2 separate regions of the Homo sapiens genome follow, and region 2 is linked to region 1. The links come from fine-mapping of genetic effects on gene expression. Tissue or cell type: whole blood. Region 1 holds a variant in brackets; the other region holds the start of a gene. All regions are shown on one strand. Distances are between the middles of the regions. Region 1 overlaps SLC2A1 (solute carrier family 2 member 1). Region 2 holds the start of SLC2A1 (solute carrier family 2 member 1).

Region 1 (2,902 bases):
AGCTCTTGCAATAAAGTGTCTCCTCTACCCCAACTATGACTCACAAGGCACACGCAGTGACTCCCTCATACGACCTAGACACCTCACACCTTTGCTTGGGCCTAATCACCTTTCAGAACATGCACAGATACTCCTCTGGAAAGCCTTCCTCCCGAGAACCACCCCTCCCACTCCACTGCAACTGGTTCTCAAACAGAGACGGCTTTGGTACCCCATAGGACATCTGCCAATGCCCAGAGACATTTTTGGTTGCCACACTGGCTACTGGTATCTAGAGGGCAGAAGCCAAGGATGCTGATAAACATCCTCCAATGCATGGGACAGGCCTCTACAACACCAGCAGAAACATCACAGTGCCAAGCTGAGAAACCCTGCTCTAAGGGCGAAGCACCCTCTCCCTCTTCCTTCCCTGCTCCCACTGTGCTTGCTCGCATTTCCATCATCGCCTTTAGAAGACTAACTGTAAGGTACCGTGTGCTCCCTGTACAGTAAACCTCAGCACGGAGATGGTCTGTCTGATGCATCCATGTTGCTGGTGCCCAGCACGGTGGTGGAGGTGCAGAGTTGACACTAAATGACCAACAAGCCATGAATCTAACTGAAGGGCTTGAGGGGTGATGTGATATGACAGGGTGTGATGGTGTAAGAGATTGTGCAACTGTGTGTGGGAAACCTGAGATGTTGGTACATGACTGAGCTTGACTCAGCTCCAAAGTGAGACCACACACTGCCAGCTAGGTGGCAGTTGTAGGTGAGTGAAAGGGTGTTTAGGTGCCCATCTGGGACTGTGTCCATCTTCCACAATGGTCAAGGGCACAGACTAGGGCCAGACTCCCCGGAGTTACATTGCAGCCTTGCCACTTACTAGCTGTGTGTCCTTGCTTTAATTGCTTAACATTCCTGTGCCCCAGTTTCTTATAGAGCAGGGAAAATTATGGTGTCTGCCTAATGGGGTTATTTTGAAGAACAACTGAATTACTATTTCTAGAGTATGTATAACAATGCCTGGGCAAGCTATAAGTAAGCAGTAAGGGTTTATGGTAGTGGTGACGGGTGAAGGGGAGAGAGGACTAGAACTCTTTGGATATAGGAGAGAGAAGGAGAGGCTGCCTAGAGCACGAAGCCCAGTTCAGCCTGACGGGACACAGGGCTTGGGTTGGGAGGCGGGTGTTGCCTCCAGCTCTTTCACTCACCAAGCTGGGTCATCCTGGGCAGACCTCACCTCCTCTGCAGACCAGGTTCCTCCTTTGTCAAACAAGGAGTGTTGTTTGTCAAACAACTGAG[G/A]CCTTTCTGGCCCAAACTCTGGATTCTGAGGATGCCTTATTCTCAGACATGCCTGACACTGTCCCTTGGGCCAGGACTTCATGGTTTCTCAGTGGCCGTCAGTCATCTCTACTGGCAGCTCAGTCATTTGGGGAGGGGAAAGGCAGTGCTCGGATGAGCCCAGTATGATGGTCAGGATTCCCTGGTTCATTTAGCTGCTCCCTCTGTGGCTGGGCTCACCTCTTCTGCTCTGTCCTCCTCCTCCAGGAGGGGATGCATGGCAGGAATGTCCTGTCACACTCACAGCAGGGCAGGGGCAGTGTGCAGAGCTGGGGAGGCACAAGGCCTGGAGCCCACCTCTAGCTCAGCCTCTCACTCTCCAGATACCTCATCTGGCTTCAGTTCCCTCATTTAGAAGAGGGGAAGATGTCAGCCCCGCCTGCCTTGTAGAGTTGCTGTGAGGTGGTAATTTATGGGGTGGTGCTTTGTAAACATATAAGGTAGTATGATTAATTAACCACTTCCAGGAGGAAGCCCTTTGGGGCCTGTTTTATGGAAGAGAACAAGCTTCTGGCATCCTCACCACTTGTGGGGCAAAGTCTCTTCTCAAGAGTAGGCAAACTGTGGCCAACCCAATGCTGTTTCCTAAGAGAGGTTCTTCTAAACAGACAAGGGAAGTCAGTGTGCCCACTGCAGGCAGTTAGCAATTCCGCATCAGCAGAACATTTCACACCCCTGCACCTCTGCAGAAGCCCCTCTCACTGCCCAGACACCTGCCCCTCCTGCCCTATGAGGTCAACTAACCCTTCAAGGTCGAGCATGGCTGCCAAGTCCTTCGTGAAGCCCTTTTTTTAATCTCCCCTGTCACCCCAGCCCCAGCATTAGTTGCCCCGTTTGCTCTCACAGCACCTTGAAGCCCTCTGTTAGTGACACTCTGGCTTTCTCCAAGGGGTCTCTCCCACTGCTGTGGAGACAGGGCCTGGCTCAGACTGTGTCTCAGGCAGCTCCCTGAGGGCCAGCATGTGCCTGCTGTGTTCACAGCTATACTTCTCTCTCCTTACTGTCTAGGACCGCATCTGGCACAGCGTGGATGCTCAGGAAGTCCTGGCTGAATGAAAGGGTTGGCCAGATGGAATCTCTGTGTCGCCCTAGGGCAGGCCTTCAGCCTACGCGGGCACAGGAGTCTCTCTGCCCTGTTACTACACATGGGCTCTGAGCCTCACTTTCATTTCTTCTTCTTGGGTCCTTCTGTCCTCTCTTCACATGTTACATGTATCACTTCTAATCTGGCTCCTGGTTGGAAAAACTACAGCCAGCCTTGTGAGAAGTGTTTGTAAAGTACAAAAGTCAACAGACCAAGTGTCTGGGTGCTTGCCCAAGAAACACCGCTAGATTTCAGCGTTCTCAGTTCTGGCCACTCACATCTCCAGCTTCGGTCTGCTGGGGCTGGTTCCTGAAGTGACCTTTGGACAGGTGACCATACATGGTCCTATGAATGCAGTTTACAGGCTCATCTGGGCCCTCTGTGCTGCTGACCAGCCCCGTGATGCCCTGGTCAGAGGTTCTGCCCATATTCCATGACAGTTATAACCTCTTGCCTATTTCTGATTAGATGGGAGGCCCCGGGGATCACAGAAGT
Region 2 (2,902 bases), 21 kb after region 1:
GCTCAGTCTCAGCGGGACACCTCCACAGCCAGTAGGAAGGGCAGTTCAAAATTCAGTGCTACCCCCGCGTCCCAGCTAAGAAAACAAGGGCCATCCAGGTGCCCTCCCAGCTGACGAGATGGAAAAATCAAAGTATAATAGATAAAGAGGGACCGTTTCAAAAGAAAAAGGGGACTTGAAAATATTGTAGACTAGGGGGAGGAAAGGAGGTGGAAAGAAACAATGCCCTACACACAGGAGGGGCTCCACAAACAATTTGTTGAAAAGAAATCGCTCTGCGGACGCTACAAAGATGCCCTGCAGGACAAGCCCACTTACACAGAAAAAAAGAAATCCTATCTAGGGAGTTGTTGGTCCCCAGAGTCCCCATCCCTCATTCCCCAACCCCGTGGCGTGCGCGCTTCCCGCTAGACTTCAGCCTGGGGCTCTTTCCTGGCCCCCAGATCCCCCGCCCCTCCGGTTGCGCTCCCCGCCTGGCCCCGAGGGTAAACCTGCCTCCGCGGAACACATCTCCGCGAGACTGGGCCAAAGCTTTGGGGCCTGCACTCCTCGCAAAGGAGAGCCTCCGAGACCGGAGGTTCATCTCAACCCCCGCGTTCGAGCCCGGGCCTGGAGAAAAGTGCCCTCCCCTCGGCCTCGGCCTCGTCACCGCGGGGGACTGGCGGGAGGAGTAGGGGAGGCCGGTGGGACACCTCGCACCAGGCCGCCCACCTACAGGGGCGTCCGGGCTAGGGGAGCAGACGGAGAGCGGGGGCGGCTCCTGACTCCTCCGCGCGCCGGGGCCGGGGCCGGGCCGGGGGCTCGGCCCGCTCAGCCAATGGGCGCCGCGCTCGGGCCCCCTCCCCCGCACCGGGAGGGGCCGAGGCTGGGCTGCTGCTGCCGAGGTCGTGTGCGACGTGCCGCTCCCGGGCCCTGTGTCCCCAGCCCCAGCAGGGCCGCGTGGACGGCGCGGCGCCCCCGGAAGGAGGCCATGTGCTCAGTGCCGGCGCCAACTACGCACGCGGCGCCCTCCGGCCCGCTAGATCCGAAGCCCATCCCCACTGCGGCCAGCGGCCCGGCGGGGCGCTGCGCTCGGGACCCGCACCGAGCCAGGCTCGGAGAGGCGCGCGGCCCGCCCCGGGCGCACAGCGCAGCGGGGCGGCGGGGGAGGCCCTGGCCGGCGTAAGGCGGGCAGGAGTCTGCGCCTTTGTTCCTGGCGGGAGGGCCCGCGGGCGCGCGACTCACCTTGCTGCTGGGCTCCATGGCAGCGCTGCGCTGGTGGCTCTGGCTGCGCCGGGTACGCGGGTGGCGACGGGCGTGCGAGCGGCGCTCTCCCGCTCAGGCTCGTGCTCCGGTCCGGGGACTCCCACTGCGACTCTGACTCCGACCCCCGTCGTTTGGTCTCCTGCTCCCTGGCGTGCTCACTCGGGGACCCGCGACTAGCGACCGGCACGCTCGCTGTTGCTACCTCTTGCCTCTTGCCAGAGAGCGCGCGGACCGTAGCGTTTATAGGACCCCGGCCATTGGCTGGCGACGCCGGTGTGTCAGGGGTGTGTGGGCAGGACCTCGGGGCGGGGCCTGGGGCCCAGCCTGTCCTGGGCGGCGCTCTGCGGGGAGGGGGTGAGGGGAGTGGCCGGGGCCGGGGCCCCCCCTAACCACTGCCTCGCTCAGGCTGCCGATCGGCTCGTTCTCTCTGCGTTGGGACCGCGGAGGGCATTCGCTGTGTGACTCAGGGCAAGTGTGCGCACCTCTCTGAGCCTCCGCGGCCTTCTCTAGCAAAATGGTGGAGCCGGTACCCGGCTGTAAGGCAAGCTGGGATGCGCGGAGTAGCGGGTGGAAAGCTGGACTGGAGTTCTCACTCGGCCGCTGGGTGACTTCGGTGCACTAGGGATAGTAACAGTACCACCTCGTAGGGTTGTAGAAAGACCAAGTGAGTTAATATTTGTAAAGTGTTTAGAACAGCGTCTACTGCATGGAAAGTAGTATTTATTTGTTAGAGAGACTCCAGGAGGTCTTGCCCAGGGATTGACTTCTCCCTTCCCTGTCTCCACCCCCCACATTCCCGTTTGTGAGCCAAGCCTTGCTTTTGCACCGGCCGGGCTCTCTTGCCTGGAAATGCATACCCATCTCAAACCTGGGCTTTAAAATCACCTCCTCTGGGACGCCTTCCTCTACTTCTCACAGTTCAGGTGAGTCTATGGTGACCTGTAAGTGTGGAAAATATGAAAGGCAGGCTAACTGACTGACATGATAGGACATTAAGGACATGATAGACCTCGGGTTTGAACCAGCTCAACTGTATACTGGCCCGGCCGCGATCCTGGGCGAGTTCCTGGCCAGTGAGGCTGTTTTCGTTTTTTTCTTTAATTTTTTTTTTTCTCAGACAGAGTCTCGCTCTGTCGCCCAGGCTGGAGTGCAGCGGCACGATCTCGGCTCACTGTAACCTCCGCCTCCCGGATTCAAGCAGTTCTCTGCCTCAGCCTCCCGAGTAGCTGGGATTACAGGCGCCCGCTATCACCCCTGGCTAATTATTTTTATTTTTAGTAGAGACGGGGTTTCACCATTTTGGCCAGGCTGGTCTTGAACTCTTGACCTCGTGATCCACCCACCTCGCCTCCCAAAGTACTGGGATTACAGGCGTGAGCCACTGAGCCCGGCCGAGGCTGTCTTCTTATGAGTAAATGGAATTCCCACACCAATCTCATTGCTATCAGGAGAGGTGCAATTTCCAGATAAGCTCATGAAGTGTTTAGCATGGAAGTTCTCATTTACTGGTTGGTGGTATTGTTGGTTTATTTATTTAGTCTGTTAGTAAATAAATAAATGCTGGTCTCAAACTCCTGGGCTCAAGTGATCCTCCCACCTTAGCCTCCGTAGTAGCTGGGAGTGCAGGCATGTGCCACTGCACTGGTAGTGGTATTGC

What was found.
Region 2: it holds the start of SLC2A1, and the variant in region 1 is fine-mapped to the expression of SLC2A1 in whole blood (TOPMed, PIP 0.97).

Annotation. Positions count from the first base shown.
Region 1 is chr1:42,936,721-42,939,622 of GRCh38, forward strand. The region is part of intron 2 of SLC2A1 (solute carrier family 2 member 1); the gene reads right to left. Among named protein-coding and RNA genes, the nearest start is that of SLC2A1, 21 kb to the right of the region's middle. RefSeq lists an enhancer at 93-162. The variant G/A (reference allele first, on the strand shown) is at 1,285.
Region 2 is chr1:42,957,410-42,960,311 of GRCh38, forward strand. SLC2A1 (solute carrier family 2 member 1) reads right to left here and starts at 1,459. Exons shown (of 10, transcript NM_006516.4): 1 at 1,225-1,459. The coding sequence starts at 1,242. SLC2A1-DT (SLC2A1 divergent transcript) reads left to right here and starts at 1,640. Exons shown (of 4, transcript NR_033967.1): 1 at 1,640-2,168. RefSeq lists silencers at 580-1,219, 1,350-1,759, 1,632-1,815.